Homo sapiens: one gene and its partner. The protein of the gene in region 1 purifies or fractionates together with the protein of each later gene. This does not show direct contact. Each region holds a gene or a part of one and is shown on either strand. Other genes may lie near its edges.

The links.
Region 2: the proteins of CCDC83 (region 1) and PPID purify together in Homo sapiens (affinity purification with mass spectrometry; 2 studies listed by BioGRID and IntAct, with this or other methods). This does not show direct contact.

Annotation. Positions count from the first base shown.
Region 1 is NC_000011.10:85,846,747-85,862,266, reverse strand, and holds the start of CCDC83 (coiled-coil domain-containing protein 83), read right to left. Parts: upstream 6,885-15,520; 5' UTR 6,683-6,884; intron 6,603-6,682; exon of another isoform or gene 6,516-6,602; intron 5,986-6,515; exon of another isoform or gene 5,927-5,985; intron 1-5,926.
Region 2 is NC_000004.12:158,716,768-158,732,474, reverse strand, and holds the start of PPID (peptidyl-prolyl cis-trans isomerase D), read left to right. Parts: upstream 1-9,078; 5' UTR 9,079-9,186; coding exon 9,187-9,271; intron 9,272-10,991; coding exon 10,992-11,132; intron 11,133-13,188; coding exon 13,189-13,295; intron 13,296-15,274; coding exon 15,275-15,463; intron 15,464-15,707. UniProt on the Homo sapiens protein: PPIase that catalyzes the cis-trans isomerization of proline imidic peptide bonds in oligopeptides and may therefore assist protein folding. Proposed to act as a co-chaperone in HSP90 complexes such as in unligated steroid receptors heterocomplexes.

The DNA of each region.
Region 1 (15,520 bases):
TCCAGAATCTACTCCATCATTTTCTGTCATAAAATCTTGCAATAAATATTTCCCAAACGCCTCTCAGTGAAAAGCCAGAAGTTTATTTACTAAAAATGGACATATCACAATCATTTTTTTCATATGTAGTTATCCCATACTGCTTTGGCTCTGCAAAGTTACCTATAGAACACACAGTGTATCCCTTCCTGCACTATCTCAGCATCCTGGCTCAGTATCTAGAAAGCTTAAAATAAATGACTCTCTTTTTTTTTTTTTTTTTTTTTTTAATGAGACAGGGTCTGGCTCCGTCGCCCAAGCTAAAAATGCAGGGTCATTCCAACTTCTGCCTCCCAGGTGCAAGTCATCCTCCCACATCACCTCCAGAGTAGCTGGGATTACAGGCGCATGCTACCATGCCTGGCTAATTTTTTAATTTTTTGTAAAGAGGGGGTTTTGCCATGTTTCTCAGGATGGTCTTGAACTCCTGAGCTCAAGGGATCCACCCACTTTGGCCTCCCAAAGTGCTAGGATTACAGGCATGAGCCACCGCACTTGGCCCAAAATGACTATTTTAATGACTTTGTGAAGGCGTGAATATCCAGAAGCCTCCCAATGACTCCTTTCCTAATTCTGTGGAGGCTGGGAGGGATGGCAGTTCTGCCCTAATACCTTTCTGGACATATAAAATGGAGTTTGAGGTTTGATAGCTAATGTTTTACATACAATGTAGATTAAAATGAAAGATATTTACTTAACAGCATTAGCAATGACAGAAGTTCAGAATAAGATTCCATCAAGGCATGAGTGCATGATATAAAAGATCTCTATTTGGGTGCTAGGAGTCTTGAAGTCTAGTTGTGGCTCAGCCATTAACTAGCTAGAAACTGAGCCATTAACTGCATGGTTTTGAACTGCAGTTCCCAAATTATACTGGATTCTCAGCTATAAACTGTAAGGCTAATAAAAGTAATAGTAGTAGTAGTAATGCAGTACTTCCAAAAGCCTTATTAAAGAGCAATCTAACTTAGAAGGCACATACCTCACTATAATGTTAATTGCAAAGCTGAAATACATATTCAAAACCATTCATGGTACTCATCTTCAACAAAATACAATTCCTTTAATGCCAGTGACACCTAACTACTTCTATAAACCCTCATCTTGGGAATTCAAAAAGAGATGTTGTATCCTTTAATATTTAAATTCATCTTGAGAAGCCTCTTCTTATTGTCCTAACTAGTGATAAATAACCTCGCCTTGTGGCCCCACAATTTGTACTTTTTTTTTTCCCCACAATTTATGGCTTGTAATAGACAGTGTCTATTTTTCCCATCTTTGTGTTCATGTTTATTCAATGTTTAGCTTGCACTTATAGTGAGAACATGCAGTATTGCTTTTGGGTTCTTGCATTAGTTTGCTTAGGATAATGGCCTCCAGCTGCATCCATGTTGCTACAAAGGACACGATTTTGTTCTTTTTATGGCTGTGTAGCATTCCATGGTGTATGTGTACCACATTTTCTTTATCTAGTCCACCACTGATTAGCATCTTGGTTGATTTTATGTGTTTGCTACTGTGAACAGTGCTGCGATGAACATGAGTCCATGTGTCTGTTTCACAGAATGATTTATTTTCCTTAGGGTATATATCCAGTAGCGAGATTGCTGGGTTGAATGGTATTTCTGTTTTAAGTTCTTTGAGAAATCTTCACACTGCTTTCCACGTGTTCTTTAATACTCCCACCAGCAGTGTATAAGTGTTCCCTTTTCTGCTAAACCTCACCAGCATCTGTTGTTTTTTGTCTTTTTAATAATTACCATTGTGATTCCTGTGTGATAGTATCTTATCATGGTTTTGATCTGCATTTATCTAATGATTAGTGATGATGAGCATTTTTTCATATATTTGTTGGCCACATGTATGTTTTCTTTTGAAAAGTATCTGTTCATGTTCTTTGCCTTCTTTTTTTTTTTTTTTTTTTTTGAGACGGAGTCTCACTCTGTTGCCCAGGCTGGAGTGCAGTGGCACAATCTCGGCTCACTGCAACCTTTGCCTCCAGGGTTCAAGTGATTCTCCTGCCTCAGCCTCCCGAGTAGCTGGGACTACAGGCACGTGCCACCATGCCTGGCTAATTTATTTATTTATTTGTTTTGTATTTTTAGTAGAGTCGGGGTTTCACCGTGTTAGCCAGGACTATCTCGATCTCCTGACCTTGTGATCTGACTGCCTCAGCCTCCCAAAGTGCTGGGATTACAGGCGGGAGCCACCACACCCAGCCTGTCCTTCTCTTATTTTTAAATGGGGTTATTTGCTTTTTGTTTGCTGAATTAAGTTCCTTATAGATTCTGGATATTAGACCTTTGTTGGATGCATGGCTTGTGAATATTTTCTCCCATTCTGCAGGTTGTCTGTTTACTCTGTTGATAGTTTCTTTTGCTGTGCAGAAGCTCTTTAATTAGTCCCACTTGTCTATTTTTTGTTGTTGTTGCAGTTGCTTTTGGGAATTTAGTCATAAATTCTTTGCCAAGGCCAATGTCCAGAATGGTATTTCCTAGGTTTTCTTCTAGAGTGTTTGTTGTTTTAGGTCTTACATTTAAGTATTTAATTCATCTTGAGTTAATTTTTGTATGTGGTAAAAGGAAGGGGTCCAGTTTCAATCTTCCACATATGGCTAGCCAGTTATCCCAGCACCATTTATTGAATAGGGAGTTCTTTCCCCATTGTTTGTTATCATTGACTCTGTCACAAAACCAGTAGTTGTAGGTGTGTGGCTTTATTTCTGGGTCCTTTAACCTGTTCCATTAGTTTATATGTCTGTTTTTGTAACAGTACCATGTTGTTTGGGTTACTGTAGCCTTGTAATATAGTTTGAAGTTGGGTAGTGTGATTCCCCTGGCTTTGCTCTTATTGTTTGGGGTTGATTTGGTGATTAGGGCTCTGTTTTGGTTCCATATGAATTTTAGAATAGTTTTGTTTAATTCCATGAAAAATGACATTGAATGTTTTTCCATTTGTTTGTGTTCATCTCTGACTTATTTCAGCAGTGTTTTGAAATTCTCATTGTAGAACTCATTTACCTTCTTGGTAAGCTGTATTCCTAGGGGTTTTTTTTTTTTTTTTTTTTTTAAGGCACCAAGATTTTTATTTACCCACCTTCCTGCTTTTTATTTTTTTTTAACATAAACATTATGGACCAGATTATTCTCTTTTTGACCCAGGGTTGTGATAGGAATTATCTTGTTACAAAGTGGTAGCAGATCTATGCTTGCTTTTATGTTTTTATGGCCCCTCTCAACCTCTGGCTATCAATTCTCTGTCCTTTCTCAGTTGTCCCTTAACAGTCTATTCTAACTCCTATAAAACAGAGACTAAAAGTACCAACCTCATTGTTATGAGGTGGAAGAGAAGGCCCAGCACTAAGTCAGGCTCTCAGGAAAATTCAAACAACAGTTCCTCTTTGCCCTTCAATATAGCTGCTGCTTTTCTGTCATGGGCTGAGGTACCACTGAACCTGTGAACCAAGCACACAGGTATAAGTCCACAGACCGGGTGAATGCCTAGATGGTAAAGTATATGGGCTTTGTGACTCCATTACCAACTTCCAGGCTAAGGAAGGACTGACTTAGTGAGAAGTTCCAAGATCATTGAATTCATAGTTCCCTGTGGCTGTCTCCCTTGTACCCCTATCATGACCAAGGCTTGAGGAGGGGCCTCTCAATTCCCCCTGCCACACTTGGAACAGTATGAGGGATGCAGCAGAGGCCAAAAACTGAGTGACCAGCCCCAGGGAGTCAATAGGGGACACTGACAAACCAATCACAAAGTGGGTGCCATTTGCTCTTAGGGAGGAGAGGCAGGGCCTGGACAAGGACAGCAGTTGGAAGGCGAAGGGCAGGTCTGGCTTTCAGTAGTGGTAGTGATCTGGCTTGAAGGGGCCATCACGGGACAAGTACAGGTAATGGGCTTGCAGCTCAGTCAGCTTGGTCAATTTCACATTCAGCTTGCCCAGGTGGGCTTCAGCCATTGCCTCATTCAGCTTCTTGGGCAGGAAGAGAACCATAACCTGGTACTTGTCTGGGTGGGTCTGCAGCTCAGTCTGCGCCATCACTTGGTTGGTGAAGGAGTTACTTATCAAGAAGCTGAGGTGGCCCATGGCACAACCCAGGTTGACCAGCTGACCCTCAGCTAGCAGGATGATGTGGTGTGCATTCTTCAGCTGATACCAGTCCACCTGGGGCTTGATGTTGACTCTCTCCACAGTATTCTTGTTGAGCCACTTGACATCAATCTCCATGTCAAAGTGTCCAGTGTTACAAATGATGGCATCATCCTTCATCTGCTTAAAGTGCCAGCCAAGGATGATGTTAACACAGCCTGTGGTGGTGACAAAGATGTTGTCCTCCTGACAGGCCTCGTCTATGGTGGCCACCTCATAGCCCTTCATGGCAGCCTGCAGTATGTTGATGGGGTCGATCTTGATGATGATGACATGGGCCTGAAACCCCACAGGGCCTGGGCACAGCCTTTGCCCATGTCGCCACAGCCTGCTACCACTGCTACCTTGCTGGCAATCATCACGTCTGTGGCCCACTTGATGCTATCTATGAGGGACTCCTGGCAGCCGGAGAGGTTGTCAAACTTGCTCTTGGTGACGGAGTTGTTGACATTGATGGCAGGCACTTTCAGGATCCCATTGGCCATCATCTTGTGTAGCTTGTGGACCCCAATCATGGTCTCCTTGAAGATGCCTCACATCCCCGACAAGAGCTGTGGGTACTTGGTGTGGATGAGGTTGGTGGGGGCCCAAGCGACATCCAGAATCACGTTGAGGAGGCCGTCTTTGAAGTATAATGTCTGCTTGGTGCACCACAGGTACTCCTCCTCTGTTTCGCCCTTCCAGGCGTACAACTGGAATGCCAGCCTTGGCAATGGCAGCTGCCTCATGGTCCTGGGTGATGTTGCAGCTGGACCACTGCAGCTTGGCACCCAGGGTAATGAGGGTCTCAATGAGGATGGCCATCTCCATGGGTCCTATGGAGGCAACTGGTGATGCGCGTGCCCTTCGAGGGCTTGGAGGGTTGAGTACAGCTCCCACATGCACGTCAGGCCCGGCATCTGGTTCTCCACAATATCCAGGGCTTTGCATCCCCAGAAGTCCAGGCCAATGTCAGTGACTTTGTAGGGCAGTTTGTCAGACATGCTGGTGGTGCTTGTGATAGACATGGCTGAAGGGGCCCAAGCCTCGATCTGGGGACAGGCACTGGGGGTATGGCACTGGGCAGGGGGTTCCCAGGTAGTTTATTCGTTTTGTGGCTACTGCAAATGAGATTGCACAGAACACATGTTTAACTTAATTAGAAATGGTCTCCAGTAAATGTTTTTAAAAATCCTGAATTAATTTAAAGCCATTCAGTGGTAATAGTACCACCTAAAACATTAATTTTAAAAATTGAGACCGCTTTTCATATTGATTATGTATATATGATAGGGACCAAAATTGTTAGTGTTAAAATGTAAAATTTGCCCGGTTTGGAAATATGTTAAAATCATATATTAAAATCAAGGTATTTAAAAATATCTAGATGAGTGACATTTTCAAGTTTCACTTGGACGACTGATGATGTACATTACATTAGCATGTATTTTCTTCACCAATCCTTTAGTCATGGCACATTTTTCTACTGCAGTACCCAAAGATATTGGAGTCTTAGCTTTAAAATTAGTCCGTCTTCTGATCCAGAGTTGCTAATATCAAATAGTTTGAACTGCAGTATATTACACTAACTTCTCTAGTAACCAGAACTACATTTTTTTCCCACTCTTACTGTCCTTCAGTTTTAGAATTATCAACAAAGAAAAGAAAAATAACTATGAAAATATTATTATGAGGATAAGGGAAAAATATGCAATAATAATGGTAGAGAACAAAAAGGCTTCTTTCTACCTTCAAATAGCAGTAGTGAGTCTAAAGAGGATCTTCTGGAGGTGGCTGTAAGGCAATCCATGAGCAATTATCACATAGACTGATAAATACCCAGTCATTATTTTTCCCCTCTGTCATCACAGGAATCTTTCTTTTCCTTTTTTTTTTTTTTTTTTTGGCTTAGATAGGGCACTTTTTCCCATCTCTTAATCACTTCCTCAACTCTCTCTCTTGCCCAGCAGAAAATTATGGGATAAGGAAGGGAGTGAGGCAACAACATGGCACTGTACAAATGTGACAAATTCATAAAAGAAACCAAGTGTTTTCTTTAGAAGAATGTTGTAGTATCCAGAGCAAGAAGTTGAAACCAATCTATGAATTGGGATATGAGGGTAAAAGACATCAATAACACACTTAGCACATATGAAGTACCTACAGCGGAAGAGCATTGCGCTGGTATTGAGAAGGATGCAAGAGTATGTGAGGTCCTCAGAAAGCATTCACTAGACTCAGAATTTGGTGAGAGAGGCACTAAGAGAAGCAAGACCGAGCTTAGTCCCAGCTCCTGCACAGAGTTGTATAACCTAGGCCAAGTCTCTGAACCTCTGACCTGTTTCCTCCTCCATCTGTCCTAGTTGCTGTCCGGGCTATGAGGCTCCAAACGCTTTGGGAAAACTGTCAAGTGATAAAGCCTCATAAGAATGGAAGGCATTCTTAGTCTGCTCTGCGTCTGCTGTGTGCTAGGGGCTGTGTGAGGGCACCGTGAAGGTTACAAACCTGAATCAAATTCAGAGCCTGCCTTTCGAGAGGGCAAATAATGTATCCAGGGGTTCTACCGCAAGGCGGAGAGATGGGTTAACATTCTGATCAGATTAAAAAGGCCTGCCCTCCTTCTCATCTCCTGGGTGGAGAAGAGGAGTGGGCCTATCAGAGCCCTTCCCAGCAGCTCCTAACGGCCCAAGAACGGCGCTTCGTGGACAAGACCAGGAGGGCGCGACCCCCAGGCTGATCTCGAAGCGGCGCAAGCCCAGGCCCGTGGAGAGTGGAGCCCGTGGAGGGTGGTCGGGGGGAAGCTTATAAAGTCTTCAGTGTCAGACTGGAAGGAGTCGGGGGCCAAGAAAAGAGGCCAGCCAGTCTCCTGACATCCCCTCCACAGCCTGCAGGGGCGGATACCCGGCCCTGGGCGGACAGCTCGCACTTCCTTTCAGCCCGCCGGCCAGGCCTACCGGCTCCACTGCAGCGGCTGCTGCGCCCTGCATTTCCAAGGCAACCGACGTCCTCCTCCCTACTCCCTCCCCACCCGCCCTAGCTTAGCCGCGAACGGCGGGCCGAGCGCGCCATCTGGTGGCGACGCAGGGAAGGGTCCCGGCCGAGCGCCCGCGCCGCCGCCTTGGTAGCAGCGGTAGCGCTCTCCCGCCTTCCTCCGCGCGGGATTTTCGGCGTCCCTCAGCCAGCTGGTCTCAAACGCTCACGCGCTCGTTGGCTCCCTTTAGTCGCAAGCCTGGAAGTTGGTGACTGTAGACACAGGGCCCACGGGCTTCGTGCTGTGACCGTGAGCAGGTCATTTGGATCTCAGAGTTTGTGTCTTCCGCTGTAAAATGAGACGCCTGGACTCGGTGGCGCTTTCCGCACAGTTCGGGGGACGGGGACGGGGCCTGGTTGTCTGGTGAGGCTTCTGCGCGCCTCTGTCCCGCTGCGCTCCTTCCACAATGGCGGCTTGTCTTCTTTCTACTTTCGTGCACTAATTCTTTGGTTTTAGCTCTTAATAAGAATGGCAGGTCCCTGGACTAAATGCTTACAGGGCAACTTCCTGCTGTATAAGTCCTTGATTCTGTTTTTCTTCTCGCTTTCCTTTTTTGTTCGTAAACCTAAAGAAAGGAATTTAAGTCCAGCATTTCCCACTCTTCGCTTTTTGCTGTTCTTTCCTCCGAGAGAGAAAAAGAAAATCCTACACGTACAGCCTTTAAAGTTCCTCTTTCCTCTCCTGCATTATTTCTCATTATCTGCCGCAAGATAATTTTCTTTTTTTGGTACTTGACACTGGCTTTGAACGGACAACTTTTTTTTTTTTTAATGAGTGGAAATATTCATTTATTCAGCACTTAGAAATAACAGTTCTTGATAATATTATGATTTATAATTTATACATGGTGTATTTTAATGAATTGCAGGTGTTTAAGAAATAAGTAATATAGCAGGGCGCGGTGGCTCATGCTTGTAATCCCTCACGCCTACAATCCCTCACGCCTGTAATCTCAGCAGTTTGGGAGGCCGAGGTGGACAGATTGCTTGCGGTAAGGAGTTTGAGACCAGCGTAGGCAACATGGCGAAACCCCATCTCTACGAAAAATTAGCCAGGCATAGTGGTGAGTGCCTGTAGTCCCAGCTACTTCGGAGGTGGAGGCCGAAGAATTGCTTGAGCCTGGAAGGCTGAGATCTCAGTGAGCCGAGACTGCCACTGCACGGGTGACAGAGCGAGCCTCTGTCTCAAAGAAAGAAAGAGTATGTACCTGGATATGTATTTTTATTTTTATTTTTATTTTTTACAGCTTAACGAGATTTTTTTATTTTCCTGACTTTTTGCTTTGGAGAATTAGTCAGTAGTTAAGGTCTATCTTGTTCGTTTACTATGGGGTTTGAATTTGAGATGGGGCTGACGTCACTTTGGGGCCCTTTTCTTTTCTTCTTTTTTTTTTTTTTTTTTATTGATCATTCTTGGGTGTTTCTCGCAGAGGGGGATTTGGCAGGGTCATAGGACAATAGTGGAGGGAAGGTCAGCAGATAAACAAGTGAACAAAGGTCTCTGGTTTTCCTAGGCAGAGGACCCTGTGGCCTTCCGCAGTGTTTGTGTCCCTGGGTACTTGAGATTAGGGAGTGGTGATGACTCTTAAGGAGCATGCTGCCTTCAAGCATCTGTTTAACAAAGCCCATCTTGCACCGCCCTTAATCCATTTAACCCTGAGTGGACACAGCACATGTTTCAGAGAGCACCGGGTTGGGGGCAAGGTCATAGATCAACAGCATCCCAAGGCAGAAGAATCTTTCCTAGTACAGAACAAAATGGAGTCTCCTATGTCTACTTTTTTCTACTCAAGACACGGCAACAATCTGATTTCTCTATCTTTTCCCCACATTTCCCCCTTTTCTATTCCACAAAACCGCCATTGTCATCATGGCCTGTTCTCAATGAGCTGTTGGGTACGCCTCCCAGACGGGGTGGCGGCCGGGCAGAGGGGCTCCTCGCTTCCCAGAAGGGGCGGCCGGGCAGAGGCGCCCCCGACCTCCCGGACGGGGAGGCGGCCGGGCGGAGGCGCTCCTCACTTCCCAGACAGGGTGGCTGCCGGGCGCAGGGGCTCCTCACTTCTCAGACGGGGCGGCTGCTGGGCGGAGGGGCTCCTCACTTCTCAGACGGGGCGGCCGGGTAGAGACGCTCCTCACCTCCCAGACGGGGTCGCGGCCGGGCAGAGGTGCTCCTGACTTCCCAGACTGGGCAGGCGGGCAGAGGGGCTCCTCACATCCCAGACGATGGGCGGCCAGGCAGAAACACTCCTCACTTCCCAGACGGGGTGGCGGCCGGGCAGAGGCTGCAATCTTGGCACTTTGGGAGGCCAAGGGAGGCGGCTGGGAGGTGGAGGTTATAGCTAGCCGTGATCATGCCACTGCACTCCAGCCTGGGCAACATTGAGCACTGAGTGAACGAGACTCCGTCTGCAATCCCGGCACCTCGGGAGGCCGAGGCTGGCAGATCACTCGCGGTTAGGAGCTGGAGATCAGCCCAGCCAACACGTGAAACCCCGTCTCCACCAAAAAAAATACGAAAACCAGTCAGGTGTGGCGGTGCGCGCCTGCAACCGCAGGCACTCGGCAGGCTGAGGCGGGAGAATCAGGCAGGGAGGTTGCAGTGAGCCGAGATGGCAGCAGTACAGTCCAGCTTCCGCTGGGTATCAGAGGGAGACTGTGGATAGAGAGGGAGAGGGAGACCGTGGGGAGAGGGAGAGGGGGAGGGGGAGGCAGACAACTTTCTTTTACATCCTAGGAGCGTCTATGTCCTGGTAGTTACATTTCAGTCAATTACTTATCCTTTTGTCCCAGGAAGACAGAAATGAGGCCCCTTTAGGCTTCCCTGCTCCCTTCGTAAGTCACCTGTTTGGCATTCTTGAATTTGTTTTTTAAAAAATGGATTATCATATTTTTTATTCATGCTGTGTTATATTAATAACGTATTAAGAACTTGAAGGGAACTGAAGCAGTTAATAAAAATATTAAGCAGCTTTTGGTTAAAGGAGTTTTTCTCATCAGTAAAATATACAAAAATTAATCATTGTTAGAGATAACTTACGTGTTCCACCTCATTTTAACCTCCCTTTAGTCTATCAGTATTGTGTTTATTAAGTGCCAGGAATTTGCTATGATCTACACATCTGATAAATGTTCTTCTGTTAACCTGGTTTTCCCTAAAATAACATCATCAGATGGGATTATAGGATAAAATTATTAAGAGTGCAAATTCAGGAGAAAAAGCTACCAGCGGAAAATTTTTAAAGCATGGAGATTTTTTAGTTAAATAGAAAAGCAATTTGTGATTCTTCAGCACTTTGAATTGATTCCCACATCATTTGTTTTAAATCTTAGGCCTGCTTCTATTATGAGAGCCTGGGCCCATAGTGAAAAAATGTACTTTTACCTATCATTTATATCCTGCACAGTTTTTCTTATAGTGTTTACCAGTTGGTGGTCAGTGTGAAGCCAGATAAAAACCATTTGCTGAGTTTCCTCATTTGACCTTGATTTTCTGTTAGCCTTGCCATGTTGAATGATGTAGAAATAGACGTAGGAAAGTATCTATAGTAGAAGAAGCCAAATATGCTGTCTGTTTTTGGAAAAACCACAAAGAACCTGTTTGAGATGAGCAATTGCTAAACAGAAACAACTGCAGGGTCTTATTATTATTAAATCTCACAATAATTTGTAAAGACCCGAACTAGGAATGAACTTACTGCCTTTGCGAACCAGTTCAAACTTTTGGTAAATCAGACATTTTACCTACAGCAGTTACTTTTGAGAAATAGAAAATTTTTGCTACAACTTCCTGTCCAATAACTTTGTTCCTCACAAACTTGAAACAATTAAATAGATGTTTTGCAAAAATAAATAATCATGAACTAAAATATTCTCTTTTTTTTTTATTATACTTTCAGTTTTAGGGTACATGTGCACATGGTGCAGGTTAGATACATATGTATACATGTGCCATGCTGGTGCGCTGCACCCACTAACTCGTCATCTAGCATTAGGTATGTCTCCCGATGCTATCCCTCCCCCCTCCCCCCACCCCACCACAGTCCCCAGAGTGTGATATTCCCCTTCCTGTGTCCATGTGATCTCATTGTTCAGTTCCCACCTGTGAGTGAGAATATGCGGTGTTTGGTTTTTTGTTCTTGCGATAGTTTACTGAGAATGATGATTTCCAATTTCATCCATGTCCCTACAAAGGACATGAACTCATCATTTTTTATGGCTGCATAGTATTCCATGGTGTATATGTGCCACATTTTCTTAATCCAGTCTATCATTGTCGGACATTTGGGTTGGTTCCAAGTCTTTGCTATTGTGAATAATGCCGCAATAAACATACGTGTGCATGTGTCTTTATAGCAGCATGATTTATAGTCATTTGGGTATATACCCAGTAATGGAATGGCTGGGTCAAATGGTATTTCTAGTTCTAGATCCCTGAGGAATCGCCACACTGACTTCCACAATGGTTGAACTAGTTTACAGTCCCACCAACAGTGTAAAAGTGTTCCTATTTCTCCACATCCTCTCCAGCACCTGTTGTTTCCTGACTTTTTAATGATGGCCATTCTAACTGGTGTGAGATGGTATCTCATAGTGGTTTTGATTTGCATTTCTCTGATGGCCAGTGATGATGAGCATTTTTTCATGTGTTTTTTGGCTGCATAAATGTCTTCTTTTGAGAAGTGTGTGTTGATGTCCTTTGCCCGCTTTTTGATGGGGTTGTTTGTTTTTTTCTTGTAAATTTGTTGGAAGTTCTGGCCAGGGCAATTAGGCAGGAGAAGGAAATAAAGGGTATTCAATTAGGAAAAGAGGAAGTCAAATTGTCCCTGTTTGCAGACGACATGATTGTATATCTAGAAAACCCCATTGTCTCAGCCCAAAATCTCCTTAAGCTGATAAGCAACTTCAGCAAAGTCTCAGGATACAAAATCAATGTACAAAAATCACAAGCATTCTTATACACCAACAACAGACAAACAGAGAGCCAAATCGTGAGTGAACTCCCATTCACAATTGCTTCAAAGAGAATAAAATACCTAGGAATCCAACTTACAAGGGATGTGAAGGACCTCTTCAAGGAGAACTACAAACCACTGCTCAACGAAATAAAAGAGGATACAAACAAATGGGAGAACATTCCATGCTCATGGGTAGGAAGAATCAATATCGTGAAAATGGCCATACTGCCCAAGGTAATTTACAGATTCAATGCCATCCCCATCAAGCTACCAATGACTTTCTTCACAGAATTGGAAAAAACTACTTTAAAGTTCATATGGAACCAAAAAAGAGCCCGCATCGCCAAGTCAATCCTAAGCCAAAAGAACAAAGCTGGAGGCATCACCCTACCTGACTTCAAACTATACTACAAGGCTACAGTAACCAAAACAGCATGGTACTGGTACCAAAACAGAGATATAGATCAATGGAACAGAACAGAGCCCTCAGAAATAACGCCGCATATCTACAACTATCTGATCTTTGACAAACCTGAGAAAAACAAGCAATGGGGAAAGGATTCCCTATTTAATGGTGCTGGGAAAACTGGCTAGCCGTATGTAGAAAGCTGAAACTTGATCCCTTCCTTACACCTTATACAAAAATCAATTCAAGATGGATTAAAGACTTAAACGTTAGACCTAAAACCATAAAAACCCTAGAAGAAAACCTAGGCATTACCATTCAGGACACAGGCATGGGCAAGGACTTCATGTCCAAAACACCAAAAGCAACGGCAACAAAAGACAAAATTGACAAATGGGATCTAATTAAACTAAAGAGCTTCTGCACAGCAAAAGAAACTACCATCAGAGTGAACAGGCAGCCTCCAAAATGGGAGAAAATTTTCACAACCTACTCATCTGACAAAGGGCTAATATCCAGAATCTACAATGAACTCAAACAAATTTACAAGAAAATATTCTCTTAAGAGGAAGAAAGTATATGCTACCTTTAAGAAGGAGATTGTTTTAACCCAACGTCCATTGTCACGTTGCAATATTGTATTATAAAATGGGATGGTGTCTCACTGTTTATAAGGGTCATATTTTTTCACTTTAAGCCAGAGGCACATACCTGCAGTTCACTTTTTTTTCTTTGTCTCTCCAAACCAAGTTTAACTTAAATAACCAGAATTCTGGCAAAAAGATACCACATGTCTTTTTTTTCCTTCTTACTTCGTCTGCCTAATTAATGTTTGAAATTACTCTTATGATCTCTTTGTTTTCTCAGATATAAGAGGAGCCCAGGACAGTAAGCTGGAGCCAGGGTTTCTTATCCCAGGAACCTGGACTATATGATTTGAATTGTGCCTGAGGGCTTTAGCATGTGACATCACAAGAGTATTTAGCAACAATGAATTGCTGCCTGCTTGCTATAGTTTTAAAATATGAACACAAAAGGACAAACATATAGACCAATAGAATATAACAAAAAATCAAGAAACATACTTGTACATATAGGATCAATTGCTTCAGACAAAATTGTAAAAGTAACTCGATAAGCAAAGCATAATCTTTTGAACAAATGTGACTGTAACTATTGGATATCTATTTGGAAAAAAAAAATGAAGCTTCACTCAGACCAAAAACCATACAAAAAATTAACTCAAAATGAATCATAAAGGTGAAAACTATAAAATTTCTAGAATAAGACAAAAAATCTTTTTGACTTTGCATCAGCCAAGTGTTATATAGGACACAAAAAACATGATTCAAAAAAGAAAAAAAGAACTTGAACTTCATCAAATTTAAATTTAAAATATCTGCTCTTGAGGGTTTGGTTTTTTTTTTTTCTTTTTTCTTTTTTTGGTTTGTTTGTTTTTTGAGTCAGGGTCTTGCTCTGTCACCAGGCTGGAATGCAGCAGTATGGAAATGGCTCGTTGTAGCCTCAAACTCTCAAGCTTAAGTGATCCTCCTGCCTCAGCCTACCAAGTAGCTGGGACCACAGGCACGTGCCACCATGCTCAACTGATTTTTTAGTTTTTTATTTTATTTTTTGTAGAGATGGGGGTCTTGTCTTGTTGCCTAGGCTGGTCTCAAACACCCAACCTGAGGCGATTCTCCCGCCTTAGCCTCCCAAAGTGCTGGGATCATAGGTGTGAGCCACCATGCCCAGGCTGTTCTTTAGTTTTAAGAAGATGAAAAGGCAAGCCACAGTCTGGAAGAAAACGTTTGCAATACATATACCTGCCAGAAGACTGGGATCTAGAATTTATAAATAATTCCTCAAGCTCAATAGGAAAAAAACCAACTAATTACAAATGCCAAAAGATTTGAATAGATGCTCCAAAAAATAGATATATTCATGGCCAATTGGCACATGAAAAGATGCTCAATATCATTAGTTATCAGGCAAATGCAAATTGAAACCACAGTGAGATACTACTACACACCTACTGGAATGGCTAACCCTAAAAGACTGACAATACCATGTGTTGGCAAGGATGTGGAGTAACTGGAACTTTCATATATTCCTGATGGAAAAACAAAATTGTGCAACCATTTTGGAAAACAGTTTAGCAGTCTCTTATAAGGTTAAACACATATACTGTATGACCCAGCAAACCCACTCTTAGATATTTATTCAAGACAAATGAAAATGAATGTTCATAGCTGCTTGTAATACTACTTAATAAAAAAAGGAATGTTGCCAGCACTTAGGAATGAAAAAAAAAAGGGTGGGGGGAATAACTATTGATACATGCAACAACCTGGATGGGTCTCAAAAGAATTGAGCTAAGTGAAGAAGCCAAGTGTGAAAACTATATGCTGTATCATATGAAATTCTAGAAAAGCCTGGAAGCAGATCAGTGATGGCCCTGAGCTCAGGGGCTGGGGTGTGGGATTGACTGCAAGGGGGCAGGAGAGTACTTGCCGGAATAAAGGAAATGCTCTGTATCTTGATTGTGGTGGTGGTTACAAGGGTGTATAGATTTGTTAAAACCCATTGAACTATATATTTAAAATGGGTACATTTTATTGTATATAAATTGTACTTTAACAAAGTTAATTTTTTTAAAATGGTTTCAGGCTGGGCACGGTGGCTCATGCCTGTAATCTCAGCGCTTCGGGAGGCCGAGGCAGGTGGATCACCTGAGGTCAGGAGTTTGAGACCAGCCTGACCAACATAGTGACACCCCATCTCTACTGAAAATACAAAATTAGCTGGGTGTGGTGGTGCATGCCTGTAAATCCCAGCTACTTGGGAGGCTGAGGTAGGAGAATCGCTTGAACCCGAGAGGCGGAGGTTGCAGTGAGGCGAGACTGTGCCACTGCACACTCCAGCCTGGGCGACAGCGAGACTCCATCTCAAAAA
Region 2 (15,707 bases), on another chromosome or scaffold:
GAGATATAATACCATTCATTTTTAACGTCTCAGCAAGCTCATTAATTGCCTCCATGTCACTACATTCAATGGATATCTATCAGTCTTCTTTTTGCTTAATTTCCTAGTCAACTTGTTTATCACTCTCTCCTTGAAACACTCTTTTTTCCCGTCAATGTCATAATGCCACATTTTCTTCCTGGCTTGTCTTTCTACTCTTCTTCTCTGCCTCCATTGCAGACTCATTCTTCTCTCCTCCTGGCCTTTAAAAAGTGCAGTTTCTCAAGGCTCTGTCCTAGGATCTTTTCTCTATTCACCCTCTACTCCCCCTGTCCAACTATTACACCTTTCCCCACTAAATTATCATCTGTATACCATGATACCTAAATTTATATCTCAGTGTTAGATCTTTCCCTTTATATGTCCAACTAACTACTCAGTATCTCTATTTGGATGTCTCAAAGGTACCTCAAATTCAACATGAGGTACCATGTTGAGACCAAAGTGATGATATTCCACTCAAACGCTATCTTTTTCTTCCAGTGTTCCTCATCTCAGTAAACAGCCTCACCATCCATCCAATTGTGTATCTCAGGAAGCCAAGTGTCATCCTTTTTCCATTCTGCACAGTCATATCCCACATCCAGTCCAACACTTGTTACTGTTGATCACCCCTGTACCTTTCCCATCCATTCATTTTTATCCATCTTTACTATCACAACTTTAGTACAAGTGGAGTCATCACTCACCAATAGTAACCTGCTCAGTATCCTCTTTAAATCCATTATGGCTCCCCTCCATTTTGTTCTCCAAGCTAGAACCAGAATAGTCTTTTTTTTTTTTTTTTTTTTTTTTTTTAAGACAGAGTCTTGTTCTGTTACCCAGGCTGGAGTGCAGTGGCATGATCTCAGCTCACTGCAGCCTCTGCCTCCTGGGTTCAAGTGATTCTCCTGTCTCAGCCTCCCAAGTAGCTGGGATTACAGGCACCCACCACCATGCCCAACTAATTTTTGTATTTTTTGTAGAGATGGGGTTTTGCCATGTTGGCCAGGCTGGTCTTGAACTCCTGACTTTGGGTGAGGTGATCCCCCTGCCTCAGCCTCCCAAAGTGCTGGGATTACAGGTGTGGGCCGTGGTGCTCGGTCCAGAATAGTCTTTTAAACATGCAAATCTTTTCATGTCAACCCTGCTGAAAATCCTTTTCATTGGTTTACTGTTGCTGTTGGGAAAATATCTTAAATCCTCAACAGGTCACAAAAGTCGAGTCAATCAATAAGCCCTAACAGATCCTCTCTACATAAACTCTTCTACTTAGCATAACCCTTTTTCAGAGACACCAGCGTCTGTTAGTTGCACATCTATTTGTTTCTTTTGGCTTCTATCTCTGCACAGAATTAGGGAAGTTCATGGAGATGCCAAAAGATTGGCACTAATTCTCTAACCTTTCTCACTCCATGCAAAGAGATTTGGTGGAAGTTTTATTATTGTTTTTATTTCCTGTGGAAAAAATGTATTATTTGCCTCTATTCACATTCTATAAATTTAGAATATCTTACAAAAGGTATAAAAACCTAAACCATTTTATTATGATATCTCAAAACCAAATTATATAGGGATAAAACAACTCCAGCATTAATGTCAGAAGGAGCTCAGGGGCCCTTTATATATCATGGTATTTTAAAACAAATATTTAAACCTATCAAGATTGTTAGATTATATTTTTCTAGTGTATGGTAGAAGTGGTTTTAGAATCATATTGGGCAACACTTTTTCACCTCTCTAACCCTTATTTGCCTTGTAAGGATTACAGAGGTAAAATGGGATAATAAAGTTACCTACATTCCAAAGTTATTTTAAGGACTAACTAAGATGAAGTATGTAAAGTACCTGGCACAAGTGTGGCACATAGTAATGATCAATAGGTGCTAATTATTACTATTTTTGTTTATGATAGTCACAAGTCATTGTTTTAAAAGTTCTTTTAGGTTCATGTAACATTTTTTTCTTCAGAGAAAAGAAATACTGAACAAGTCTATCACTGGTTTTGTTCTATCAAATATGGGTAAATACACTTTTTCAACTGAAAACAGTAAACATTAATCCTATTACTCTGCAGAGAAGAAAATAATCTTACTGCTCTTCAGAAAGATTTTACTATTACTCCTTATTGCACATAAGCCCTGTCTACCTGGTGCTATTGTGAACTAATAATCAATATCCTTTTTTGCCATGTCACTTCCAGCCCCTAGATGAAGAAGCTTGTCCCGTTGGGAGTCCTCAGGCACTAAGTCCACTGCACCACTTCTGTCTGTGCGATGATTTCTGCCAGTGGTGGAGACTCTGCTGTCCCCTGGTGGCATTTGCCGTCTTTCATTTATTCAATGTTCTGGCTCAGAAGACCTACAGTTATCCTTAGATACTCGTAAATTTAGCAGGCAAAACCTGAGAGTTGCTATCTCATTCTGATCTGTAATTATGACTCTTGTAGTGGAAGCATCACTTTCTCTATGTGGTTCAGAGCAGAAATTCTTGGTTAGGAAACTCTCCCACATGTTACTGTCTCATCAACACCAGTGCTTCCTAGGCAGAATTCATTTCGTCTCCTCTTTAAGGAGTTACATGCTAAACTGTTCTTTGGAGTTCTATCTTTGGTTTCAGAGTCTGATTCTACAGACAGGATCCTGAAATTTCCTCTTCTAACTCTGCTATCCTTCCTAATTTCTTATCTTTGACAAAGAGGTTGGATGTTACTTCAAATTTGTCCAGGATCCTAGTAAGGACCTCAGTGATCTACAACCTATGCCCATGTAAAGGAATAAAGTTAGATCTGTATGAAATACAACTTTATTTTTCTATAACTCCGCTGAAATTCAATTCTGAATTGCCTATTTTAAAGGGCTGGTAATATCATAATCCGTGTCTATTTCTGGTATTCCTCCTTTCTCTCCCTTGGGGTTGGATCTAAATTCAAAAAAGCCTAATATAACAGCAAATTTGGGGGTTTGGAGCCTCTGGTTCTCAATGTGATCTGCCTACACAGGCATCCAGTGAGAAATTCACGATCCTAACTCAGTTATCAGTTCTACAAATCTCTAATGAGTTCAGAGTTCCCTTCTGCAGGCTCCCTTTAAATGTGGAGGCTGCCTTTCTTTTCCACGTCATACATGGGTGTACAGGGATATTGTTTTGTTTCCACTTCAAGTTAGGGCATACAAAATCTCTGTGACCCTGTCTAGTTCCCATCTACCTAATCACACCATGAATCTTGTTCTCTTTCTGGGGCCTGTTGCCTTCCTGGGACAGTTCAGGAATCAAGGAACACGTCCCTCTGCTCCTGGATTTCACAAACCCATCTATGGAGGTTTGGTGGCTTCCCAGGTATGTGACGGGGACCATGGTAAGACTCCCTGTCTCTGGGACTGTGGAAATCTGCCTTGCCATTGCCTCCTCTCTCACTTTCCCCTGTGCACCATCCACAATCTTGTCATCTCCCAACACAGAAAGTGGGTTTTTTGTTTGATTTTTTTTCTGAGAATGGAAAGCCATGATCTTATAAAAGATGTTTTGTCCAAATCTTTTGCTATAGCCAAGAGTCTTATCTGTTTCTGTAAAGCCAAGCCTTTTGCAACACCAAAGACAGGAAGAGATTCCCTTTGTTCCCTCTGCTTTCTTTGCTGTCACTTCTTTCTTTAAAAGCAAAGAGCACAGAATGCCTAGCTGCTTGTTTGGGGTGATGGGCAATGAGATTGAGAAAAGAGAATATTGGGGAGGAAGGCAATCTATTAATATTATTCTACCACATTTATGAGCAACAGGCAGAAATTATAACAACAAGGCTATCAGGAAAACTCCCCACTCCATCTGGATGAAACTGTGTTAACCCTAAGAAACGGGGCATGCTTTTGCCTCTTCTGCTCTTTTCCTTGCTAAGCACAGACAAGATGTCAGAACTCAGAAGTCCTGTTCCATGTAATCAGACTGACAGTAGAACAAGTGTTTTCTAGGAAAAGGTTTATCTTTTCACTGGAGATCCAGTTCTGAGTGGTTTTGAAAGGTACAATTCTTTTATTTGGTTTGGTTCTAGGAATATGACAGTTTATATAAAGCTGTTGCTTTACTGTGAAAAACCTAGACATAGTGAGAGTAACATCTGAATTAATCTTTTACACCCAGAAACCAGTAGAGCAGAAAGAGTCACTTTTTTTTCCTTGTAAGAATGCAAAGGAATCCTCAAAACTCCTTTGCAGTTTTAATATCCATTTTGAAATATGTTGATGTAACTATTATAATGAAGTATTAGCTACTTATGGTTAGTAATTGCTTACCCTTATTGAGTACTTACTGTGTGTCAGATACTAAAACACTTTTATTTAATATTTTTCATTTAATCTTCATAATAACCTTAGGAGATACATATTATTATTCTGATTTATAGGTGAGGAAAGTGAGGCACAAAGAGGCTAAGTAACTCGTCCAAAGGCACAAAATATGATGTGTTACAGACTGAATGTGAACCCCAGAATTCTGATGGCAGAGAAGATATGCCTACCTAAGTATATTCATCATGATAATAATGGTTGAGAGGCTATGGCATATGGGTGTCAATTCTTGTAATAAAATGTTAAATTTAAGCTAGTAGATCAGAATAAAAATGTTAATGTGAACTTATTGTGATATATGTGAGACAAAGTTACCAGTTTGCAGCCAAGACATGAAACTGGATTAGTGAATGATTTTGATGCTCTAGTTTATCAAGGGATACAGAAGTTTTGTTCTGAGCCGTCCTGGGTCTTCAGGGAACCACCATGAATAAATACCGTGAATAAACACCAGGAATTGGAGAACATAAGAAATTAACATTTTATATTTATGTTAATGTGCTGGAATTTGGAAGGATCAGCATGAAAATCTGATACACAGAATCATTTTGAATTACACTTAAAGGCATGGAAATAAAATTTCTTGTTAACATTGTTTCATAAAATTCTCAAAGCCATTAGTATTTTGTATAATTCATTCATTCAAAAATATTTACTGAGCACCTACTATGTGTCAGGCACTGTTAGAAGTGCTGGGGATAGAGTAATGAAAAAAACAAAGGTTCTTGTCCTTGTGGAGCTAAATTTTGTTTTTTTAAACTCCTCTTACTATCTATCATTCCCAAGGAGCTGATTTTTAATGAGTATGTGAAATAAGTAAGTAAACAGTATATTACAAAGTTATAAGTGCTATGGAAAGGTAAATTAGGGGTATCTTTGAGTTTGCTCCTCTTAGTGTTCTTTTTCCTTTCTATTTCAGGGATAAAATGGGCTAGGTTATAAAACTGTTACTCATTTTGAAAACTCAATCTGAAGGAGCTGGACAAAAATACAAACCAAAGCATGACTTCTGATTTCAACATTGAAACCAGTTGATATGGTTAGGTCCCAACCCAAATCTCATCTTGAACTGTAATCCCCATAATCCCCATGTGTCTAGGGAGAGACTCCAGGTGTCTAGGGAGATCGGATCATGGAGGTGGTTTCCCCCATGCTGTTCTTGTGATAGTGAGTGAGTTCTCATGCGATCTGATGGTTTTATAAGAGGTTGTTCCCCTTCGCTCCTCACTCTTCTATCTCGTGCCACCACGTGGGAAGGTCCAAGTGTGCTTCCCCTTCACCTTCTGCCATGATTGTAAGTTTCCTGAGGCCTCCTTAGTCATGTGGAACTGTGAGTCAATTAAACCTCTTTCCTTTATGAATTACACAGTCTCGGGTATTCCTTTATAGCAGTGTGAAAAATGGACTAATACACAAGTGGTCCACACCCACCTGAAGTAGCAGCACTATCTAAAAAACTGGCTTCTCATGGAGAAATAACATTCTCGTTGCCCATTTTCACTTTATAAGTATATATAGTTCCCCTCCTTTGAAGATGCTCTTTACCTGTTCCCTCCTTACCTGTCTTCCTTGCCACATATGCTCCTGTGACTGATCTTACTCATATTTCTGACCTTAGAAAAGGCTACTGTGTTCAGTGCCCCTGCTGTGTGCTGAATGTGATTGTCTTTTTCCTATTAAAACACTAATTATATTGCATTGTAGAGGTTTATTCAATAGTCTTTCTCCCCCATAAGACTGTATAATTTGTGTAGTTAAGGATAAGGGGCCAGGCGTGGTGGCTCATGCCTGCAATGCTTTTGGAGGCCAAGGTGGGCAGATTGCTTGAACCCAGGAGTTCAAGACCAGCCTGGGCAACATGGCGAAACCCCATCTCTACTAAAATGTTAAATTTAAGCTAGTAGATCAGAATAAAAATGTTAATGTGAACTTATTGTGATATATATGAGACAAAATATAAGTTATCAGTTTGCAGCCCAGACATGAGACTGGATTAATGAATGATTTTGATGCTCTTGTTTATCAAGAGACACAGGAGTTTTGTTCTGAGCCGTCCTGGATCTTCAGGGAACCACCATGAATAAATACCATGAATAAACACCAGGAATTGGAGAACATAAGAAATTAACATTTTGTATTAACTTTAATGTGCTGGAATTTGAAAGGATCAGCAAGGAAATCTGATAGGAAATCATTTTGAATTACACTTAAAAATTAAAAAAAAAAATTACCTGGGCATGGCGGCATGTGCCTGTAGTCCCAGCTACTCAAGAGGCTGAGGTGGGAAGATCACTTGGGTCCAGGAGGTTGAGGCTACTGTGAGCTGTGATTGCACCACTGCACTCCAGCCTGGGTGATAGCACAAGACCCTGTCTCAAAAAAAAAAAAAAAAAAAAAAAAAGGATAAGGAATATGTTTTTTCATCATTGTATCATCAGCACTCAGAATGGAGGCTGGCATACAGTAAGAGCTAAATATTTGTCATATAATTGAATCAACTTTTGCTGAGTATCTATGTGGACATGCCTATGTATGTATGCATTTTGTTAATAAGGCAAATTTGTGATTACACAGAAAAATTCAATCAATATAATATCCTTACTGATTTGTCCTAAAATTTCACCGACACCTATTATTTATTTTTTCACAAAAGGTATGTTGGTATTTTAATTAAAAACGACTCTATAAATTGGTTTTATTATTTATTTATTTATTGTTTAGAAAATATTTTTTGTAGAGATGAGGTTTCACCATGTTGTCTGGGCTGGTCTTGAACTCCTGGGCTCAAGCCTTCCACCCACCTTGGCCTCCCAAAGTGCTGGGATTACAGGCGTGAGCCATCACACCCGGCCAACAAATTGGTTTTATTATGAGTAGCTAGTAATACATGTAATTTCTCTTTTACTTTTTAAAATATTATGAAAAAATTTAAATGTGCAAAATAAAGAAGAGTAGTATAATAAACTCCCATGCACCAATCATCTGCCTGGCCCTTATGTTTCATCCACAACCCAACCCACTTACCTGACTCCAGGTTATTTTAAAACAACTTCAGGCACTATAGCATCTAATTTTCAGTAATTTAAAAAAGAGTGTATAAGAATGCTTTAGAGATTACAAGGCAAATGCTTACACATTATCTTTTTCCATTCTCATACCCTGTTCTTTGGCACTTTACCGAAAAGGAAATGAGAAGGGTTCAGAGAAATTAAATGACTTTTCTTTGGTAACATGCCTAGTATACATGTAGTCAGAACTTGAAGCTTTTGCTTTTTTTTTTTTCTTTTTTAACATCAACTTTCGTGCTTAGTCCAGTGTATAACATCACAGGCAAATTCAAATTGAGAATAGGAATCAGTTGTTCTTTAACCGTAACCCTTCTAACTTTTACTTATCCTAAGACCGGGTAGCAAGTAGGGCAGGAGCCTTCATCTAGAGGGATGGTGACAGCTCTGATAGGGGAAAATTAGCACTGGTCTTTCCTTCCAAAAAGCCACTCTGGCTGCTGCTGTTGACACAAGGCTCCTGGCTTTTGAGACATTATTTGAGTGCTGGATTCCAATACTTTTTACTTTCTCATAAGAAAAAAAAATGTGAAGCATCTAAGGATATCTCCTGCCTTATTGATAAAGTAAGCCTCAGGCTGAATCCAAATTGCTGAGCTCCAATAGAACTACAGGGCAAAGCATCTACACAGGGAATTGCCACTCTTCTCCAAAATTAGGCTTTATTAAGAGGCAAGGCTATGTTCTCCTCATATATATGTGTGTGTGTGTGTGTGTGTGTGTGTGTGTGTGTGTGTGTAAAAAGTAAATGTTTTACACAGATCCCCATAAGGGAAAAGTGGGCTATAGTAATACAGTATTTTTTTGTTTTTCTTTTTTTTGGGGGGGGGGGGGACAGTTTCGCTCTGTCACCCAGTCTGGAGTACAGTGGCGCGATCTCGGTTCACTGCAACCGCCGCCTCCCGGGTTCAAGCGATTCTCCTGCCTCAGCCTCCCGAGTAGCTGGGACTACAGGCAAGCACCACCACGCCCGGGTGATTTTTTTTTTTTTTATTTTTAGTAGAGACGGGTTTCATCATGTTGGTCAGGCTGGTCTCGAACTCCTGACCTCAAATGATCCGCCCGCCTCGGCCTCCCAATGTGCTGGGACTACAGGCGTGAGCCACCGCGCCCCGCCAAATACAGTTTTATCAGGAATCAAAACTGTGCTCTCTTCTGGACTCTCAGCTTTAGCTGTTTGGAGCGTTTAGTCTAAGCCTTACCACTTACATTGTAATGTGAAGATCAAATTGTAACGACATGGCAATAATAAGGCTCCTATTGGTTGGGTACCACCAGTTTATGCCAGGCATTGTACTGATTCATGTCTTTAATCCTCAAAACGACCTTCCGAGGTCAGCGTTTTTATTCTTTTTCCAGAGGAGCAAACTGAGTTTCTGAGAAGTCACACCCAACTTGGTGGCAGAGCTGACGCTGGCATGGGGTTGACTCCAAAGCTCTCTACGCCACGAGGGTGGGAAAGACAACGAAACACAAGCGAGAAGAATAATGAGAACTGGGATCGCAACTTCATTAAATGAGAAGCCAGGAACAGGTGGCGGAGGGCACGCGGTTCGCTGCACGGAGTCGCTCAGGCTCTTTGAAACACCGCGCGGGGGAGCGGGGCGGTGCCGGAAGTCAGGCCATGGCTTCCGGTTCTTGCGTCGGAAGTGGCCGGTCAGCGTCGCTGCCGGTCTCCGGCGGAGACGGACTCTGGAGTTTGGGCGGCCCGGGCGGCCACTAGGTACTCTGATATTCCGTACTAAACACGTCTGCAAGTCAAGATGTCGCACCCGTCCCCCCAAGCCAAGCCCTCCAACCCCAGTAACCCTCGAGTCTTCTTTGACGTGGACATCGGAGGGGAGCGAGGTGAGCGGAGTCTGACGCTCGCGGAAAAGCCCCGAGGAGGCGGGGGTTCCCGGGATTTGGGGGATTCCAAGGGCGGAATGCGGCTCCGGCCGGTGACTGCTCAGTTTCGCGGAGGGGATGGCTGCCTAGGCTGGTCCGCCGGAGCAGGCCCGGAGATCTAGGGCTAGATCGATCCAGCGCCCTTGTATCAATGCCATCGGTGGTGCGGAAGTTTCTGGAAATTTCTAGTTCGGGAATTGTGGCGTCCTTTAGGTTTGCCTCCTGATTTGGTGGCACTTCCACGCCACCTTTGCACTACCAAGTTAGCATGAAATATTTTATGTTTGCAATGGGACAGTTCGGAAAGCATATCCTGGGATATGCGTCTGCTGGGCCCCAGGAAACTATATTTGCCACATGAGATAATATATCAGCACGTGCTGTGTTATTTATACGTTAAAGGGACTTGTTTGCTCATTGCTTTTGCCTTATTACTGATTCTTAATTTAGAGGTCCGTTCAGATGAGCAAACATTTTCTCTTAATTTGCCATTGGGAAAATGCGCTCAACGTAGTGATGGTGTTGCCTAGGTTACATAGCCGCTCAGAAGTTCCTAAGGCCTGGTGAATTAGGGAGCGTGTTGCTTTGTAACTGGATTGGCCTTGTTCTGGAACACGTTGGAATTGCTGGCCAGGCAATGTGTTTGAATGCATGTACAGGACACACACACGTTTACACGTACATTCAGTTTGTTGCAACTAGCTAGGGCTAGGTTTAATCTCACCTGTCTTAGCTGCTATCTAGAGGAGGAATTTTTACAGCTTTTGCTTCAGAGGTTGCATGAGGCAGTTTGCTCAGAGCACAAAGGCTGCAGGTATACGTAACACGTGGCAAGTCCGCCCACCCAAAGACTGTTTAATTTTCTCCCGTTGGTTGCTTGGTGATTGGAAATTCTCAGTACCTCTTGAAGAAATTACTCAGGATTTAAAACTATTTGTATTTAATGATATCTCTTACATGGTGCTAATCTTTTGGCTACTATAATTGGTTATGATCCTTAGTGTAATGTTTCAAATCTGTTTATATACATACATGACAGTAGGTAGACTAAATTTGAATATTAGAATAAAATAAGATTCACTAATTCTAGTGAGTATATTCAAAGGAAATGAAGTTTGTATGTCAAAGAGGTATCTGCACTCCCATGTTCATTGCAGCATTATTCATGATAGCCAAGATAATGGAATCAAACTAGGTTTCCATCTACAGATGGATTTTTTTTAAAATTTGATATATGTGCACAGTGGAGTACTATTCACCCATAAAAAATAATGAAATCTTGTCACTTCTGACAACATGAATTAATATGGAGGACATTATGTTACATGAAATAAGCTGGGCACAGGAAGACAAGGCATGATCTCACTTACATGTGGTTTCTAAAAAGTTGACCTTGAAGTAGAGAATGGAATGGTGGATTTCAGGGGTTGGGTAGATGTTGATCACGAGAGACCTAATTTCAGTTAGAAAGGGGGAATAAATTTAAGAGATCTATTGTATAACATAATGACTATAGTTAGTAGCAATGTGTTGTGTTCTTGAAATTGCAAAAAAGAAAAATTACAGTAAAGGGGAACTTGGTAATTCATGATTGATCTGCTACCATAATTATACCAACCTTCTTTTTATCATTTGTCTATTTGGTTGTTTTGCATACTGACAAGATTTTCTTTTCTTTTAGTTGGTCGAATTGTCTTAGAATTGTTTGCAGATATCGTACCCAAAACTGCGGAAAATTTTCGTGCACTGTGTACAGGAGAAAAAGGCATTGGACACACGACTGGGAAACCTCTCCATTTCAAAGGATGCCCTTTTCATCGAAGTATGTGTAAATTTTCTTAATCTTGTTATTCTTCATACAGACAAGTCCTGTTCTTTAGGATTTGGGGAAGAAAACACTAAGTAGGAAGTGAAGCTTAAAAAGTACTATTAGCGTCCATGTCTGAGGCAGTAACGCAGTTTCGTAAAGGTTAGGCTGTGCGAGGTGGAATTACTTATGGTACTAAGGTTTATCTATAGAGAAATGGACTCCCCTAGCTTTACCCATCCTCTCATTCTCCTTCACTCTAAGATGATTTGATTGAGAAAGGAAGGCCGTAGTCAACCAACCTTAGGTAGCTTCATTGCCTGGTGACAAAAAAGTTATGCATAGACCGGGCGCAGTGGCTCACGCCTGTAATCCCAGCACTTTGGGAGGCTGAGGCGGGTGAATCACGAGATCAGGAGATCGAGACCATCTTGGCTAACGCGGTGAAACCCCGTCTCTACTAAAAATACAAAAAATAAGCCGGGTGTGATGGTGGGCGCCTGTAGTCCCAGCTACTCGGGAGGCTGAGGCAGTAGAATGGCATGAACTCAGAAGGTGGAGCTTGCAGTGAGCCGAGATCACGCCACTGCACTCCATCCTGGGCGACAGAGTGAGACTCTGCCTCAAACAAACAAACAAACAAACAAACAAACAAAAAAATGCATAATTTTTGGGCCTGAGTGCTTGGGAAGGCAGCAGATTTGAAGATTCAGTGTTTTGGGCACATGGGTGATAGTGTGGTCAAAATATGCCATTTCATACTGCTTATTACACTTTGTAATGAATCATACTTTTGTTTAGTGATAATGGTTCTCCCAATAGACTGCAGGCTCTATGAGTTCAAGAACTGTATGTTTTCACCATTTTGTTTTTGGCATCTAATACAGTTATTGAGTAAGAACTCAGTAAGTATTTGTTTAATAAATAGGCAAATAAGCAATAATCACAAGAGCAACATTTTTTAAACGATTTATTAAGAAAAAATTAACTTTTTAAAAAATATTTAAAATGTTTACTTTCATGTTTAATAAAAACTTGAAATATGCTAATAAACTATATGCAGAAAATATTTAACATAGCAAGTGTGAGACTGCTATCTTTAGAAAGGTCTGCCTGCAAGAGTAGCACTTGTTTGGAGTCTGGGAACTTGACACTTGTACCATTTCCTAAATAGTAATGGTGATTTACTATGCCTAGCCTATTTGTACAAACATGAATGTGTGCTCTCTTTTGGGGAGTCTGGAATTTTGGTACATGCTAGGTAGAGTGTGCCCAATAAATACCTTGGGTGCTGAGTCTCTAATTGGCTCTCCTGGGCAGAAATACTGTGTACATGTTGCTGCATTTTTGTTGCTGGGGGAAGTGTGTGTTCTGTAGCACTTCATGGGACGGAGAAAGCATAAGGAAGCCTGCACATGGATTTTTCCAGACTCTGCCTGTGTCTTTCCCGTCATCTCGCTGTGTATCCTTACCACTGTGATCCAACCACATACTGATTTGTGTGAGCTCTAGGGTTCTCTGAACATGAAAGCAATCTTGGTAACCTTTGACACAAAGTGATATATTTGCTGAAAATTTTCCATTAGGGTAGAACAAATCTACTGGGAATCATTGGTCTGTATTCAGCAGACATTATTGAGTAACTAATATGTACTATGTGTACATGCACATAGTTATAAGGATGTAAAACAATACAGTTGGTGTACTTAAGGAGATCATTGCTGGAAGGGGCAGATCATAATGCCATATGTTATGTAGGCAGAGTCAAGATACTATGGGAGAAAAATTAGGACATACAGCTTAGGGATTTCAGTGACAGTTTTATAGGGGAGGTATCATTTGAACCGATTTTCTGAATGTTAGCAGGGATCAGGCAGTGAAAATAGGTTGGATTCAGATGGTGAAAAGCCTGAAGCGTTTGGAGTTGCGGAGACGGGTGGGGAGCGACAAACAGGAGAGAGACATGACTAGAGTCATGCACTACAAAGTTGTCTTACGTACGTATCCATTAGTAAGCATTGCTAAAGGCATCCATGTCTCAGTCACTAATAGCCATTTTCCTTTTTTGTAGTTATTAAGAAATTTATGATTCAGGGTGGAGACTTCTCAAATCAGAATGGGACAGGTGGAGAAAGTATTTATGGTGAAAAATTTGAAGATGAAAATTTCCATTACAAGGTAAAGTAGAGAAAATGCATGTTATTGCTGATAAAAAGATTGTTATATATCTGGAATACTTGTTGGATTAAGACACCAAAAAATGTTTCAAGTGTGCTTAGATTCTCCATTTCTTGTAATAGGAATCACTTTTGTAAATAATGGTTCTTTAATATGGAAAAGTTTTCATTCAGTAATGATTAATTCAGCATTATTTCATTGTGATCCAGTTTTTATATGCTTCAGTTAAGCCAGTGAGTTTTTAAATGCGACCAGCATCTGGCAAAATTGTTTCCAGGAAAAATGTTTCCATTGTTGGAAGGATGGTAACTTGTGCATCCTTATCCTTGAATTTGAAGAGCAACAAAACCATCACTAATATCCAGGATGTCAGGGGATTTGCACACTAGCAGATATAGTTAAATGTCCAAGCTCCTAAAGGACTTCAGTGGTGCCTGTGCCTTCTTGTCTTCGTTGTCCCAAGATGTAATTGGGGTATATTGCATCATTCAAGTTATAAGAATGGACATGTAAGTACAAAAGTAAAGTGATATTTTTGGAAATAAGGAATATGAGCAAGGGTATTAGGATAATTTGAAAAAATGTCGTCAGTCTTCCAGTCAGTGTTTATTGAGCCACTATCACTGGCACCAAAGGGTTTATAAAAATGAAAGGCCTTGATGACAAGGAATTTATAATCCTACCTCAGAGACAAGATTAAGATACATGGGACTACTGGAGAATAATAGTATATAAATAAATGCTAAATTGATTGAATATCCTTGCTTGTATAACATTGCTAATACTGTCTATATACTGCAGGAGAAAGATGTGATTTATGCAGTCTGAATTATTATGGAAGTCATTGAGGAGGAATGGCTACTTGGGCTGTGCAGACTGGGTCTTGCAAGGCGGCAACATGTCTGAGATTTGGTTAGGCAGGAACTGTAGTATTGATGCAGAATTTAAAAAGGGACGTCGGTGAGGAAAGACAAAGGCAAGAGACGTTGAGGAAATAAAGTTCTAGTTACTGTTGTACCAAAGGAAGCTACCAGAAGGATGAAAACTAAAGGTGATGTGATGATCACATTGACATAGAGAAAAGGGGCCTATAGACAAGACACATGATTCTTGCTTTCTATAAACGTGGTGGCCTTAAAATCTGAATTTGATTTAGACTGAGGGGAGTAAAAGGCATTTTGGTGGGGTGGGGGGTGTCATGAAACATTATATAACATGAGAGTTACGGTGCATGCACCAACAAGGAATACATTTAGAAAGCCTAGGAGATAAAGTGAAAAGGTTAAGAAATTGGGTTTCATAGATCCTTTGACAGGATTATGCCAAGGTAGAATTTTGATTTCAAGATGTATGCAGCAGTTTCTTTTGAGCACTCTCCGAAGAGGTGATTCATCTGGGATGAAAACCTAATCCAAATCCTGTATGATTTGGATTCTTTTGAGATTAGGAAAGTACCAAACTGAATGTCTTGGGTAAATTCAGTATCCCATTATTGTTCCAGTTTATTGATGTTTTGTAAAGGAAGACTTATACTGTAGGCATATTTATGAATTTGGAAGACCGTTCAGGTCTTCCCAGAAAAAAAGAGCATTCATCATAAAGAGGGCAAAATATATTACAAGAGTTTCATAATGCTGCATCTTCATTTTAAAGGTGAAGTGTAAGTATTTTCTCATGGCCAATTTAGAAATAACCCTCCCCCCGACTATTGTTTCTGTTACCTATTTACTTTGATAAGGTTTTTTAAAGTTTAAAGTGATTAAGTGCCCCATGTTTTGTGAATTAAAGGTTGCAGTTTATAAAAAAATAAAAAGTAATTAAAAAATTTTATAAGTGAAAAGTAAAAAAAAGTAGTTTGATCTAAATGGTAGTATAGTGCACCCCAGTTTTATGTTCAGTAAAAGAACAGTTCAGACTAACACACAATTCAGAAAAGAACACATCTAACCTTGGTTTTCTTTTAATTTTTATTTCTACAGCATGATCGGGAGGGTTTACTGAGCATGGCAAATGCAGGCCGCAACACAAACGGTTCTCAGTTTTTTATCACAACAGTTCCAACTCCTCATTTGGATGGGAAACATGTGGTGTTTGGCCAAGTAATTAAAGGAATAGGAGTGGCAAGGATATTGGAAAATGTGGAAGTGAAAGGTGAAAAACCTGCTAAAGTAAGTAAAAAGTTACAGTGAAATACACTTATTATCTTAGTTGCTATCTTTTTGAGACGGAGTCTCGATCTGTTCCAGGCTGGAGTGCAGTGGTGCGGTCTCGGCTCACTGCAGCCTCTGTCTCCCAGGTTCAAGCTATTCTCCTGCCTCAGCCTTCTGAGTAGCAGGGATTACAGGCGCGCGCTACAACACCCGGCTAATTTTTTCTGTATTTTTAATAGAGACGGGGTTTCACCATGTTGGC